Regions from separate parts of the Homo sapiens genome. Here region 1 is linked to region 2. A link means that fine-mapping ties the variant in region 2 to the expression of a gene that starts in the linked region. Tissue or cell type: whole blood. Region 2 holds a variant in brackets; the other region holds the start of a gene. All regions are shown on one strand. Distances are from middle to middle.

Region 1 (8,105 bases), 31 kb after region 2:
ACAGTGCAATACCTAACCAGACCCAGAAATCCAATAGGTATTATCACTAATGGAGCTTTAGAGATTTCCAGCAATCCTTTAGGAGACTGGGGCTAGCCTGTGAGCTGTAGACAGTCCAACTGTCCTAAGTAAAATACAGTACAGCCGTATTGTGCTTCATCTTCTGATCTCAACTTATCCTCCACCCTCTCCCTGCTCCCAGCTGCCCCACTCCTACACCACAATGCTCTCAGAAGTTGTGTAGCACAATGTACAAGAAGTTGCAAGTATTATTCTCAAGGAAGTACAGTATATGATGGGAAGGAGAGGGTTCTATTCACCAAAAATCATCTTAAGAAATAAGGATTTCTACTTTGGGAGGCCAAGGTGGGCAGATAACCTCAGGTCCGGAATTCGAGACCAGCCTGACCAACATGGTGAAACCCCGTCTCTATTAAAAATACAAAATTAGCTGGGCACGGTGGCGCATGCCTGTAATCCCAGCTAATCGGGAGGCTGAGGGAGGAGAATCACTTGAACCCGGGAGGCGGAGGTTGCGGTGAGTCAAGATCACGCCATTGCATTCCAGCCTGGGCAACAAGAGCAAAACTCCATCTCCCCTCCCCCCAAAAAAAAAAAGAAAGAAAGAAGGATTTCTTTGTTGAAAAAATTCTTTGACAGTTGCTTGGGGGTAGAAACTAACACCTGAGGGGTACAGATTTGGGTGGACTATCTGCAGAAGGCAAGCAGATGACTTTGTATGTTGTTCCACAGAGGGAATGGGAAGAGGAGAAAGGAAAGATAAGAGAGACGGGATGGAACCAGGAGATGTGAGCTCCTTGCCAGCCTGTCACTTAGGGCAGAAGGCAGCTTTAACACCATTAAAAGTCAATTTCAAAAAGTGTCTGTTTTTTAGCCGGGTATGGTGGCTCATGCCTGTAATCCCAGCACTTTGGGAGGCCAAGGTGGGCGGATCACCTGAGGTCAGGAGTTTGAGACCAGCCTGGCTAACATGGTGAAACTCCGTTTCTACAAAAAAAAAAAAAAAAAAAAAAAAAAAAAAAAAAAAAAATTAGCCAGGCGTGGAGGCGCGTGCCTATAATCCCAGTTACTCGGGAGGCTGAGGCAGGAGAATCGCTTGAACCTAGGAGCCGGAGGGTGTAGTAAGCCGAGATCGTGCCATTGCACTCCAGGTTGGGCAACAAGAGCAGAACTCCATCTCAAAAAAAAGTTAAAAAAAAACTCTGTTTTTAAAATATTCCAAAAAACATACAAAATATCCTAAAATTATGGACTCCTTTGAAGTACAATTATTTTGGTAAAAGATGAAAGATTTATAGGATCTGAAGAGAAACTAGAGAATCAAGTACAATTATTTGGATAAAAGATAGAAAAAGAAGAAGAAAATTTTTAAAAAGAAAACATTTGCATATAACAACTTTCTGAGCTTCTTGTTAAGAACCTGGTGAGCAGTAGGTGCTCCAAATTATTTCCTGCGTGAGTGACTCTCCTGCCACTCCCCACTTTCCCAACCTGTACTTCACACTCCAGCAACTACTTGTATTTCCTGTTTGCCATGCCTTTTCTCACTGTGTGTCTGTTGTGGTTGGAATATTCTCTGCCTATCTTTCCTTTCCCCACCCTCCTCCAAAAACACACTCTCTTGCCCACTAAGCAAGTTACTACTCATTTTTATCCCTGCCTCCTACTGTCTCCCATGGGAAAGGCAGTCTCTCATTTCCACCAGGTTTCAACTCAACAATCACAGAACTAGGCTGAGTGCAGTGGCTCATGCCTGTAATCCCAGCACTTTGGGAGGCCGAGGCAGATGAATCACCTGAGATCAGGAGTTCAAGACCAGCCTGGCCAACATGGTGCTAAAAATGCGAAATACTAAAAATGCGAAAATTAGCCGGGCATGGTGGCAGGCACCTACAGTCCCAGCTACTTGGGAGGCTGAGGCAGGAGCATCACTTGAACCTGGGAGGCAGAGGTTGCAGTGAGCTGAGATCGTGCCAATGCACTGCAGCCTGAGTGACAGAGCAAGACTCTGTATTAAAAAAAAAAAAAATCACAGAACTTCTCATTAAGGCCATCTCTGGCCATCTACTAAAATGCCAGCATCCCCACCCACACCCTCAAATCTTCACAGCCCTCTTCTGTGCTTTTCTCCTCAGTTCTTACTAATATTTAACATATTATATATTTTAACTTATTTGATCTGTTGTCTGTCTCCTTCAGTAGAATATAAAATCTATGAAGACATGGATTTTTGACTTTTTGTCTGCTACTCTGTCCCCCTTGCCTAGAACAGGACTTGATACACAGCGAGTGCTTAATATATGCAGAACGGATGGATGGATAGATGGCTGATTGAAGCTGCAGCTCAGGGACCATCTGTACCTGGAACCTCCAAGCAGATTTAGATGTTCTTTCCTCCTATATATATCTGCTCTTATCATATTGTATTAATACTTGTTTGTATGTTATTTTCCCCTCTGGGCTAGAAACTAATTTAAGGTTCAGGGCCTAACTGCTTCATCTTTATATAATTGGAAGTGAATATTTAGAGCTTGGTACCTGATATGTCTTTTCTTCTTTTTCTTTTTTTGAAACAGAGTCTCGCTCTGTCGCCCAGGCTAGAGTGCAGTGGCACATCTTTTCTATTTTTATTATTATTTATTTAAGACAGAGTCTTGCTCTGTCATCCAGGCTGGAGTGCAGTGGCATGAACACGGCTCACTACAGCCTTTAACTCCTGGGCTAGAGCAATCCTCCCACCTCAGCCTCCTGAGTAGCTGGGACTACAGGCACGTGCCACCACGCCCGGCTAATTTTTGTATTTTTAGTAGAGACAGGGTTTCACAATGTTGGCCAGGCTGGTCTCGAACTCCTGACCCATGATCTACCCGCCTCGGCCTCCCTAAGTGCTGGGATTACAGGTGTGAGCCACCGCGCCCAGCCTAGGTTAAATAACTTCTAAGGACACAACTAGTAAGCTGCAGCATTAAGATACTAATTCAAACGTATGTCATGCACCCCCTTTATTTTTCATTCTCATACTATCTTTTCTTCACCCTGCCACCTCTGCCCTACCATGTTCTGTCCTGCCCCCACATTTTTTATTTATTCATAGTCTACCCACTACTGCTAGTTCAAATTTCACATATTCAATGAAATCTTCCTTGATTACTCTTATTCATGTTAATTTCTCTTTTTTTTCCAGAAGGCTCCTGAGATAGCTCTCACGGTAAATGGGGGAGGTTATGACATGGGGCATGTGGCCTTGGAGAATAGCCTATTCAAGTCCTAACTGCTTTCACACTCAATATATATTCAGACTCTCCATGCAAAGGCCAATTTGTTTTGCAGGTAATGGATAAAGAACGAATCTCACCCTCCAGTGGTCCCCAATTTCAGGTAGTGTTTTCTCATGATATGGATGTATCTCCTAAGGCTGATGTGGCTGATGATGGATGCAATTGTTTGCATTATTTGGCTGAGTTAAGTTTCCCAGGAGTAGCTGCAGAATGGAGCAGATTTACAAGGGTTATCCGGACAAACAGCATCCCCACTTTGGGACTAGCATTTAGGACACCAGAAGTCTTTCCTTTCCCTTCTCCACCCCTGCTTCTGTTGGAAGCAGACTTCAACCCCTCCCAAATCTGACTCCTTCAGGGTTCCTACATGAGAAGCAAAAGCTCATTTCCTATTCGCCATTTCCTCATGCTAACACATCCAAAACAGAGAATTTTTGTTGGCTCAGCTGCTTTAATTTTTTTGGTAGAGGAAAATATATCAACATTAGAAACCATTGATTTTTGTTGCTGATGGTCCTTAGAAAGTAATGCAAAAAGTTGCTTAGAGTTAAAAAAGTATGCCTGATAATCTGCTTTCATTTCCTCCTTTCTCAAGGTGATACAATTACAATCAGAACCTGCAAAAAATCCACAGTAAATTCTTCTCTAATGCCTTTTGCACTTAAAATCTTTAGTAGATACCTTAGCATCTTATTCAGTAATAACATGCCAACTTAGTCTGTAACTAAATATTTGGTCTTCAATTGTGACTACATAAAATGCTGAAATATCTATAACTTGGGAAGCAGCAGTTATAAATGCAGGTCTGGTATTAGACAACCTGTGTTCAAATCGCACCTCTATCGTTTATTAACTGTGTGACATTAAGTTCCTTAACGTCTCTGATAGCCTCATTTTCCTCATCTTAAAATGGGATCCTATCATTTCATAAAGTTGTATTCTATATGAGTAATTAATAATGATAATAGTTCTTTGAAGGCCTACTACACTAGGAATTATGTTGAGCACTTCACACTCATTTTATCTAATTGTGAGAACAGGGCTTCGTACACTGTAGACAACCAAAACATACTGAATGATTGAGGCGGGGCTAATGAGGTCCGCAGCTGGCACGCCATTAGAGGAGTCGCGAGTGGAGCTCAGTCATGTCTGCCCACAAAGCGCCTGCGCTTGACCTCTACGTTATATTTACTTTGGCAATGTACAAAGTGGTGAGGACAGTCCTAGCCCGGAGGGCCCCTAACACATTGTCGTCTTCTTATCCTCGGCCCTCTGCGTTAGAGAGGGCTGCCCCGAATCGGCTTTGAACGCTGACTCGCCCTTTTCCAGTCGGCCCTTGAGCCCACTAGTCAGGGCTACAGCGTTTTCCTAACCGAGGTTCAGAGGTGAGATGGAAAATGTACCCGTCTTTATTCTGTTCTCTCCCCTGCAATGACAGGGTGAATGGCGGTGGGGTTGGGGGCACGTCTCCAGAGTCCCAGTCCGCTCGGGACCCGCGGACCGCCCGGAGGCGACAACGGCCCTGAAATTGGGGGGAGCTTGTTTCCAGCCGGACTGTGTCCCTGGGCGCGCCAGAGCGCCGCGCCTGCGCGCTCAGCCCGTTGCCGCGCCGGCCCTGCGGACGTGCGCGCGCTGCCTTCGCGGCACCTGGGCCTGAGGTGCGTGCCTCCCGGGCCCTCGCCAGCTCCAGATGCGTGAGGAGGACTTCAGAAACCCGACTGAGAAGTGGAGCGACCCCCAGGGAGGGTCGGACCTGCCTCAATACCGCCAAGGTGCCTGGGGACCCAAGAACGGGGGCTCCACAACCTCAGTTCCTGAGCTCCTTTTGCTTTCTCACTTCCCCACCTATTGAGTGCGTCTCACGCGGAGCAGAAATTTGAGAGGAAGGCGTAGAGGGATTTTTTTTTGTTGTTGCTGTGGGTTGTATCACATGTGGCGTTTTCATCCTGGCTGCAGCCAAAGCAGTTTTTACCCTTACCCTTCCTTTCCTGGCGTGGGATTTTGTGGTTTCTGGACTCGGCTCGACCATTACGTGCTTATTATTGGTTGTGGGCCTTTAGAACGAGGACTGTGTGTCAGTGTCCTTTGTCCAGTGTAGTCCACTGGGAGGGAGAGGTGAGGGTTCAAGGCCAAGAGAATGGGCCCGGGGCGAGTGGGGCAGAAGCAGCCGCCGGAGATTATTCCCCAACTGAAAGTTGTGTGTGTTTCTCTTAGGTCTTTCATTTCTTGTTCGCTTACTTTCGTGAAATCCTCACATCGTTTTAATGGTACTAGTCAAGACAAGAAAATCAACAGGCTTTCAGCCTTGAGGCAACATTGGATATTATTGAGGTCAGTTTTTACAGTTTTTACAGTCTTCACGTAGAGTATCTTGTTCTTGTCAGGATAAATTCTGGATTGAACCACTGAGCAGATCTACTATTCTTTTATTTCAGTTTAAGATAAGAAAAATTACAGTCTTTTTTATTTTTATGTTATCAACAAAAATCGGTTGAAATGGGATTTGGAGCTCCATGAGTGCGTGAGGTGAGGATCCCTAACCTGACTCTCATAAACAGGAGATAGGATCACCACTTGCCACTAATGGTTCTAACAATCTAGGGCTCCCAGTAAGTGCTTTTCCACGTGGTGGGAGGCAAGTGACAACAGTTATCCAATCTTAGTGCTAACAATGGATGATTAACCGTAGCTCCTTTTTGGTACAGGAGCTGTAGGTAGCCAATCCCTGTTTTAATCAGAGGTAGTTGTGGTGTGTGATTTTTTTCTTTTAGGCGTGTTCCACGAAAGCATTTATTAAAGGGAAGAAGAAACATACAAAAGGAATTGAATCTGGCTTTATACCAAAATCCTGTGTGATCATTCAGTCCTGACATTGGACAATTACCAGGCTTTGCCTGACTGGCCTCAAGGGCCAAGCTGTCCTCCCACACCATACTCGATATGGGCCGGTGCATTGCAGTTTTCTGGAGGGGGTTGCAGTCAAGGACTTGCCCTGCCCCTCCTGCTAGATATGCAAATCCCATAACTTCTTTCCTAGCCTGGGTACCTCCATTTGGAGGCCCTCCTAGGAAGGACCGTGGCTAAGACACTTTTCTCCATTTTTGACCCAGCTTCTTTCACTCCTAGACCTTCCCCTCCCTTTCCTATTCTGAAGTTCCATAAGAGGCAGGAGATTTTTGTTAGGGGCTCCTTTCAGTGAGAGGATTACCTCATATGCACTGCATCAACTGACCCTCACCCAGTGTCCTTGTATTTAGTAGACCACTGGGGAGCCAGTGCCTCTTTTTACCACTTGCTTGCACTGTCACAGTAAGTGAATAAAGGCTTGATTACTTTTGGTTTGACTCATTGTCCTGATTGACTACCTTGGCACCTAATTGCTGCCAAGTTCTTTGCAGTTCACTGGATTCATGACTTAATTTTAATTATCATGACTGTTGCTCTGTATCGGCATGTTTAGAGACTTTGGAGCTTGTTCACCTCTAATTTCTCTAATTCAAGCTACTGAAAATGCATATTCATAGCACCAAGAGTTGATTGTTGGTTAACATTGATATCTGGGTTATATGATATATTTTACTACTATACTGGCTTACAGTCAGATTGTTTTATTTTGCGTGGATTTATGTGGCATTTTCCATTTGGCCTGTAATTAGATGATTTTTATTTAAAATAAATATTTTGGAATAATATGGGTCAAGTGAAGAAAACCAGACACTTGCTTTCTTTAGTAATCTTGTCTCATACTATGGGCCCCTATCTTTCTCACCTTAATAGATCACTTGGCCACTTTGAATAAAGTGGTCGATTTGTTGTAGGTTCCTTTGTCTAGTATGAAGAGGCATGTTAAGAACAGCTTTCATAAACTTTTTTACTTCTTCCTACAGAAGTTTCACAAAACAATATTTATCCTTGCTATATAGTATGCAGTCTGATACTTTCTACTATTATTTATCCCCTATTTTTATTTATGTATTTATTTTTAAATTTTTTTTGAGAGTCTTGCTCTGTCTCCCAGGCTGGAGTGTGGTGGTGCAATCTTGGCGGCTCACTGCAACCTCCGTCTCCTGGGTTCAAGCAATTCTCCTGACTCAGCCTCCCAAGTAGCTGAAATTACAGGCATGTACCACCACACTCAGCTAATTTTTGTATTTTTAGTAGAGACAGGGTTTCACCATGTTGGCCAGGCTAGCCTCGAACTCCTGACCTCAGGTGATCCCCTGCCTCGGCCTCACAAAGTGCTGGGATTACAGGCATGAGCCACTATGCCAGCCTCCGCTCTTATTTTAAATAACAAAGTGCTGATCATGATCTGCTAAGTTGAATTCACAATCCATTAATGAGTAATATCCTGCAGTTTGAAAAACACTGTGATAAAGTAACTAAAGATATTTGTTCAGTAATTTTTTTTTTCTGTTTCTGATTCACATTGCTAAAGAACCACAGTGGGTATGTTTGTGATTTGGGGTTGAAGGTATCTTCTAGGAGAAAATAGTAACACCGTGTTTGTTGGATGTTTGCCAGATCAGCTGACAAAAGAACTCCAGACTTAGAACTCTCTGATCTAGAAGATACATTATATTGAAAGAGCTAGCACAGCTTTTAATTTTTTTTTGAAAAAATCTCTGACTCCTTTATTTAAGGGCAGTGCCATAGTAAAGTAATAATGAAAAGAAAATTGGCTTCTCTGATAGAAGATAGAGTATAAGATAGTTATGAAAGTGCTTGCTAAACTTTTTTTTTTTTTTTTTTTTGAGACAGTCTCTCGCTCTGTTGCCCAAGCTGGAGTGCAGTGGTGCAATCTTG
Region 2 (8,105 bases):
GCTCGTTCAGTCCCCAGGAGCCTCCACTGCTAAAGTTCCTCAGCTGAGCCACTCCCAGGAATTGTTATTGGGTAAGGGGAGCTGTCTTACTCAAGATTACATCCTCAACCCAAGGTCAGCCCACAGTGATTAGTCAATGCATGGGCGGGGTGGAGGGTATAAAGGCACAGCCTTAACTTTGAGGAGCTATGCCGGCTTTAAAGCTCACTGTAGGATTGTCTGGGTTCTTTAAAATTCCATCACAGTTCAACTTCTTTCTCACTCTGTCCAGCACTTTCCTCACTTTCTTACAGGTGTTGTTCCCTAGGGCTTCCTGCTTTAAACCTGTGACATGCAATTTTCATCTCAGAGTCTGTTCTCCTAGAAACTGAGCTATGATACTTTCCCACATGAAATACACCTCAGGGTAACAAAATAGTTGATGAGGGAAGGTTCTCTCAAGAATAAATAGAGACTACTCTGGGCACACTGCCTATGGGTTATCCCTGCTCCACAAGGAGCAATACCAAAAAGGAAAATAATAATTAAAAAATAAATTTGTAATGAAAAAAGAATCAATAATGGCAGGGCACGGTGGCTCATGCCTGTAATCCCAGCACTTTGGAGGCCAAGGCGGGCGGCTCAGTTGAGGCCAGGAGTTCAAGACCAGCCTGGCAACATAGCAAAACCCTGTCTCTACTAAACACACACACACACACACACGAAGGAAAAAGAATAAATAGAGAAACAACGATATAAGAATAACACCACTGGCCGGGTGCGGTGGCTGGCTCACACCTGTAATCCCAGCACTTTTGGAGGCCGAGGTGGGTGGATCATGAGGTCAGGAGATCAAGACCATACTGGCTAACACAGTGAAACCCCGTCTCTACTAAAACTATAAAAAATTGGCTAGCAGTGGTGACATGCACCTGTAGTCCCAGCTACTCAGGAGGCTGAGGCAGGAGAATCATTTGAACCCAGGAGGCAGAGGTTGCAGTGAGCCGAGATCATGCCACTGCATTCCAGCCTGGGCGACAGAGAGAGACTCCGTGTCAAAAAAAAAAAAAAAGAATAAGACCACTTTGCAAATTTCTAATTACATACTCTAGGCAATGATCATCAGTGGCTGCTAATATCACAAAAAGAGAGACCACTAGATATTATATGCCTCCTGATGGAAGTACACACCACCACCTGAAGGTATTCTTGCAAAAAATTTTAAACTGAATCAGACTAAATCTCTAAATCCAGCTAACAGTTTATAAGAGATACAAATACGCAGAGGATACAATCAGAAAAATCCAGAATGTAAGAGACTCAACTGGACAACCGAATTTCTTCAACATATAGCTTGCAAGGGAAAAGAGAGAGAGAGGAAGGAAGGAGAAACTTATGAACAAATTACAAACAAAGGGACTTTATTTGGTTTGTGATTTTTTTAAAAAGCAAAAACTTTTAAAATTTTTTTAGACAATCAGAAACTTGAACCCTCATTAGGTATTTGATAACATTAAAGAAATACCAGCCACACACGGTTCAAGCGATTCTCCTGCCTCAGCCTCCCAAGTAGCTGGGATTACAGGGGCCTGCCACCACATCCGGCTAATTTTGTATTTTTAGTAGAGATGGGGTTTCACCATGTTGGCCAGGCTGGTGTTGAACTCCTGGCCTCAGGTGATCCGCCTGCCTTGGCCTCCCAAAGTGCTGAGATTACAGGCGTGAGCCACCGTGCCTGGCCAACAATTAATACTTTTTTAGTGCAATTATTTCTCAAATATTTTTACTTGCTAAATCTGGCAACCCTACTTCAAATTCTTTTTCTTGCTTTTGCAGTTAATCATTTTTTGTTTTTTTTTTTTTGTCACAATTTGACTGCCTGTCCTAAAATGTTATCCATATGGTACTTCATTAAGGCAGCTAATATTTAAAACCTCTCATGTTAAGAAGCCGAGGGAGATTTCTAGTATTGTCACCTTAGAGATGGCAGTTCTGGCACAGGTATTTAATTTTGAGATCTCAAAATACCAGCAGAAAAATTGTCCCCTAGAGAATGAGGAATCTGGAAAGTGTTTTTGACAGATCTACCACATTCTTATACCACAAATGCTGCCACGTTGTTCTCTCTCCTCCTCCCCTTTCCTTTGCAATAACACAAACTGTATTAATCAGCCAGATAATGGCAGTGGTGAGTGGCGTTGATGAGAGCCTCCACTGTACTGACTGTGCTTACCCTCCCAGAGGTATGGCTTGAGGTGGGAAAAATGGAAACCAGAAAGTGGTCCCTTTAAAGATGACACATCTCTTCTATGTCTCCACAAAAGGAGACTCATATTTGTATTGTTTCAAAGCACTGTACTTTCCTACAGTTTGCTACTCAGAAAAGCTGGGAGTGGTTGAAGAGGTTAAACAACTGGCAAAAGGTTACACAACTTCGCTGGATCTTATATTTCTGATTTGCATCCCAGGATTCTTGGCACCATAATCTGGATAAGGTTGAGCTTTGGTAAAGTTAGAGAATCTATACACTGGAGTTCCTATGAACTGATCACAGTTCCAGTCCCAACTTTTAATCCTTCTAAGTAAGGGGCTCACTATGTACATAGCCTCAGACTCTCGGCTCATTCAATCACTCAGTACAGATTTCATGAACGTTGGACTAGCTATGAAGAAACAGTGATGGACAAAACAACAAAAGTCCTGTCTTCAGAGAGCTCACAGTTTAGGGGGAAACAGATAATTAAATATGTAATGACGATGAAATCTGATGAGTGTGGTGATAGGTGTCAGAACATACACTAAGAGTCTCTAACCTCTATGTTGAGGAAGGCTCCCAGAGAAAGCAATGTTTAAGCCTAGACCTAAAAGATGAATAAGAATGAGATAGATAGGTGTAGAGAGAGCGAGCAGGCAGAAGAGTGTTCCAGGTGGTGGGAATGGTGTGCAAAGGCCTGGAGGAGAACAGAGGTAATGCGGGGATGGGATGAGACAGAGCAGAACTAAAATGCAGGGATGCATGAGACAGGTCAGTAATTTTGTGCCTCTTCAAACTAATCTTTTTGACATATCTTTTTTTTTTTTTTTTGAGATGGAGTCTCGCTCTAACACCCAGGCTGGAGAGCAGAGGCACGATCTCCGCTCACTGCAAGCTCTGCCTCCCGCCTCCCAGGTTCAAGCCATTCTCCTGCCTCAGCCTCCCGAGTAGCTGGGACTACAGGCACCCGCCACCACGCCTGGCTAATTTTTTGTATTTTTTTAGTAGAGACGGGGTTTCACCGTATTAGCCAGGATGGTCTCGATCTCCTGACCTTGTGATCCACCCGCCTCAGCCTCCCAAAGTGCTGGGATTACAGGTGTGAGCCACCGCGCCCGGCTCTTTTTGACATATCTTAAAAATATTTATTTAAAGGAAAGGTTTATTAAGTCTGGAGAAGATGTGAAATGTAGTGGAGAGAATGCTGGTGGCTCCCCAGTGACTCCTTTGTGATCCTAAACAGGGACATTTGCATGCCTTGGACCCAAATCTGCAAAGCAAATCAGCCAAACAAAAGGCCTGCACCTAAGACCTGACCTCCTTAGACGCAGTTAAATGACCATTGATTGTGACTGAAGCAACTCCATGGGGTGCTTGTCCCCTCCTCCCAGTCACCACCCTAAGAAGCTTCTTCTT[C/T]TTTTTTTTTTTTTCTGAGACGGAGTCTCACACTGTCACCCGGGCTGGAGTGCAGTGGCGCAATCTCGGCTCACTGCAACCTCTGCCTCCCAGGTTCAAGTGATTCTCCTTGCCTTAACCTCCCAAGTAGCTGAGATTACAGGCACCCGCTACCACCCCTGGCTAATTTTTTTGTATTTTTAGTAGAGATGGGGTTTCACTATGTTGGCCAGGCTGGTCTTGAACCCCTGACCTCGTGATCTGCCCACTTCGGCTTCCCAAAGTGTTGGGATTACAGGTGTGAGCCACCTCACCTTGTCGAAGCTTCATTATTTCTATCTCATTGTATTTATATTTTTTGTTTTAGCACTCTTCCTGACTGGCTGGCTTTCCCAAATTCTGACTTGGTGGGAGGGAGATATGAGGCTGAGGAACTGGCAGGGGCCAAGAGTGTGAAGTTCACACATAGCTCACTCACTGGGCTGAGTCTTCAGGCCCATGCACAAGAGCACATCTTGACTAATTGCTGATGTGGGAGCAGCAATGTGGAAGAGAGCTGCAGTCCTCGAACCTCCTTAACGCCTTACAGATTCCTTGGTCCCATTCCTGACATAATTAAAATCAGAATTTCTAGGGATGGAATTTTGGAATTTGTATTTTCAAATTTCTTTCTGGGTGAATCTGGTATTAAACAACTCTGGGGCTCACCAGACTCTGTTGTAAAAAGTACACATTTCAGAGCCACTAAAACCTCAATTCAAACTCTGGCTCCAGCATTTACCTGTGTGATCTTGGCAAGTGGTTTTTTGTTTCATTTTGTTTTGTTTTGCCTGAGCTTCAGTTACTCCAGTTGGAGGAGGAGGAGGAGGAGCAGGAGGAGGAGCAGGAGGAGGAGCAGGAGAAGAAGGAGGAGGAGAAGGAGGAGGAGGAGAAGAAGGAGGAGGAGGAGGGAGGGGGAGGAGGAGGAGGGAGGGGGAGGAGGAGGAAGGGGAGGAAGAAATAACCTGGCAAATGGTTTTTTGTTTCATTTTGTTTTGTTTTACCTGAGCTTCAGTTACTCCAGTTGGAGGAGGAGCGGGGGGGGGGGGGGGGGGCGGGGCGGGGGCGGGGAGGAAGATATAACACGGCTAACTTCATATTATTAAAGGGTTAAATGAGATCATTAATAGCTAGTACTTGACCCAGTAGTCTATAATAGTAGTAGTCCCTATCTTACCTGACCTCACCTTCCCAGGATGCCAAGCTCAATTCTGGTACTAGCTCCCCCTGCAGCCCTACTTGCCCTCTGCTTTTATTTCCCAAGAACTTGTATTTTAACCTTTTTTCATCTTATAAGCAGCTTCTGTGGGGAATGACAGAGACAGTGGTCACTCCCTGCTGAGAAGAGGGACTGAAATTGAAGCCATGGGAAAAGGAGTCTGTTTAAACATTTCCCACCCCTGTCTGAGGCCCCACCTCAGGCACAAAAATCTTCCCAAGGAGCTGGTCATCCCTCCTAGTGAATGGATAAAGTTGCTGTAGGCTGATGAGGGTCAATTTGACTTTTTCTTGAACACCAGGCTCAGCACACAGAAATAGTTCTAAGGTAGTGGTGGCACATACACTGTGTTCCCCTAATGATTGGGGGGATCACTTCCAAGCACATCCATTCTTTTATTTATTTATTTTTTTATTTTTTATTTTGAGACGGAGTCTCGCTCTGTCGCCCAGGCTGGAGTGCAGTGGCGCGATCTCGGCTCACTGCAAGCTCCGCCTCCCAGGTTCATTCCATTCTCCTGCCTCAGCCTCCCGAGTAGCTGGGACTACAGGCGCCGACCACCACGCCCGGCTAATTTTTTTGTACTTTTAGTAGAGACGGGGTTTCACCGTGTTAACCAGGATGGTCTCCATCTCCTGACCTCGGGATCCGCCCACCTCTGCTTTCCAAAGAGCTGGGATTACAGGCGTGAGCTACCGCACCGTGCCTACATCCATTCCTTACTAAGAAAAAAACTGTCTATGGAAACAAACATCAGAATTCCCTTTAAACGCTGGGTGCAGTGGCTCACGCCTGTAATCCCAGCATTTTGGTAGGCTGAGGCGGGTGGATTGCCTGAGCTCAGGAGTTCATGACCAGCCTGGACAACGTGGTGAAACCCCGTCTCTACTAAAAATACAAAAATTAGCTGGGCATGGTGGTGCATGCCTGTAATCCCAGCTACTTGGGAGCCTGAGGCAGGAGAATCACTTGAACCTGGGAGGCAGAGGTTGCAGTGAGCCGAGATCATGCCCCTGCACTCTAGCCTGGGCGACAGAGTGAGACTCCATCTCAAAAAAAAAAAAAATTAAAAATTAAAAAAAAAAATTCCCTTTAACATAAGTACTGGGATTGCTTAGCACATTTTTGTCAGAATCGAGAGTATTCAAACTTGTTTCCATTTTCCTCTAAATATCCTTATAAACTAAGCTAAAGCACATTGTTTTATTAAAAACAACATCTTTTCTGATGGTAAAATTGGTATATGTTCATTAAACACAATTCAGAAAATAACAAATATACTATGTAAAGAAGAAAAGTTAAACCATCTCTAATCACCACCATGAAATAATAAAATTAACATTTTGATTTATTTCTTTCAAGTATTTTATATGCTTGAAAGAATATTTAGTAAAATTTGCATAATTCAATAGACTGTTTCTAAATCATGTTTTTTCACAATATTATATTGTGAATCTTTAGTATATTGCTAACAATTTTCAAAACTAAATTTTTATTGTTAACAATACTCTAGCATATAAATATTCTATAATTTATTTCCCTGTTGTTGGACTTTTGAGGTTTTTTTTTTTTCATTTTTTCTGCCATAAATATTAAGAGCTAAGTTTCTTGTTTACACTTTATCTTTGGGAAAACTGACTTAAAGAGGTTAAAGGGCTTGCTGCAGGGCTGGAACTGGAATACAAATTCTATACTACAGTCTAATTCCCTTTTTCATAGACCACAAATATTAATTTGTTGTAACACTATTAATCAATGCTTAGAGCATATTTGCCACTTCAATACATTTTATTTCCTGGCCTTTATTTTATTTATTTATTTATTTATTTATTCATTTTTTTGAGATGGAGTCTCGCTCTGTCACCCAGGCAGGAGTGCAGTGGCATGATCTCGATTCACTGCAACCTCCGCCTCCTGGGTTCAAGCAATTCTCCTGTCTCAGCCTCCCACATAGCTGGGATTACAGGCTGCACCACCATCCGCAGCTAATTTTTGTATTTTTAGTAGAGATGGGGTTTCACCATGTTGGCCAGTCTGGTCTCAAACTCCTGATCTCAGGTGATCCGCCCACCTCAGCCTCCCAAAGTGCTGGGATTACAGTCATGAGCCACCGCACCTGGCCCTGGCCTTTATTTTAAAAGTAAGCATTGGCTGGGTGCAGTGGCTCATGCCTGTAATCCCAACACTTTGGGAGGCAGAGGCAGGTGGGTCACCTGAGGTCAGGCATTTGAGACTAGCCTGACCAACATGGTGAAACCCCATCTCTACTAAAAAAAAAAAAAAAAAACACTACAAAAATAAGGCAGGCATAGTGGCATGTACCTGTAATCTCAGCTACCTGGGAGGCTGAGGCAGGAAAATCGCTTGAACCTGGGAGGCAGAGGTTGCAGTGAGCTGAGACTGCACCACTGCACTCCAGCCTGGGCAACAAGAGTGAAACTCTGTCTCAAATAAATAAATAAATAATAAAAGCAAGCATTACCAACAATGTGGGAGAATATGAGTGGAGTATGTATGTGGTCCCAAAGTTGGGGTAAGTGGGAGTGAGGAACCCCTGTAACTCCCATCTTCATTTCTGCCTCTTCTCATTGCACCAACTTCCCCAACTGAAACACCTTATACTGATAATATCCCTTCCTGGTTTGATTCATAAAACAAAATAAAGTTTCTCCAGTGCTTGGCATATTCATCAAGACATCAGCCCCAGCATTTACATTTTAGTGCTTCCCTTTCTTTACTTGATTTCCAGTCTCTCTCTCTCCCTCTGTCTCTCTCTCTCTCTCTCTCTCTCTCTCTCTCTCTCTGTCTGTCTGTCTCTCTCTCACACACACACACGCAGGCTGATTGGTCTTTGATTTTCAGTAGAAATTGTTGGTATTTGTAGCTGTGCTTGATCACATAGGTGAAAAGATATACTTACAGAATAAGAACTACCCTATGACCGTCCTTCTTTCATGTTGCTTAAAGCTATACTTCAAAGGAATACAGCACCACTTTAAGGAAAGACTCAGGCCTGAGGACCTAGAAGCCCAAGTTCCAAGTTTTGGGGCTGAGCTCTGTTACTAACTTCAGTCTGACCTTGGACAAGTTTCTTGTCTCTGTGATCACATTCCATCTTTATTAGAGGATTTTGAGGATTCCTTCTATTTCTGACATGAAATAATTTTAAACAGACTTGTTCCTTAGATGCTCTTTTAGAACATCTCTGAACCTTCCCAA

The links. PIP is the estimated chance that this variant, and not a neighbour inherited with it, causes the effect.
Region 1: it holds the start of ZNF770, and the variant in region 2 is fine-mapped to the expression of ZNF770 in whole blood (INTERVAL, PIP above 0.99).

What each region holds. Positions count from the first base shown.
Region 1 is chr15:34,985,082-34,993,186 of GRCh38, reverse strand. It overlaps ZNF770 (zinc finger protein 770), which reads left to right and starts at 4,900. Exons shown (of 3, transcript NM_014106.4): 1 at 4,900-5,071; 2 at 5,514-5,630. LOC105370764 (a long non-coding RNA gene) reads right to left here and starts at 4,829. Exons shown (of 5, transcript NR_188212.1): 1 at 4,703-4,829; 2 at 3,377-3,502. RefSeq lists enhancers at 4,716-4,805, 6,212-6,261, 6,342-6,401, 7,385-8,037.
Region 2 is chr15:35,015,999-35,024,103 of GRCh38, reverse strand. It overlaps LOC105370763 (a long non-coding RNA gene), which reads left to right and starts at 7,314. Exons shown (of 3, transcript XR_932098.3): 1 at 7,314-8,105. RefSeq lists an enhancer at 3,282-3,974. The variant C/T (reference allele first, on the strand shown) is at 3,650.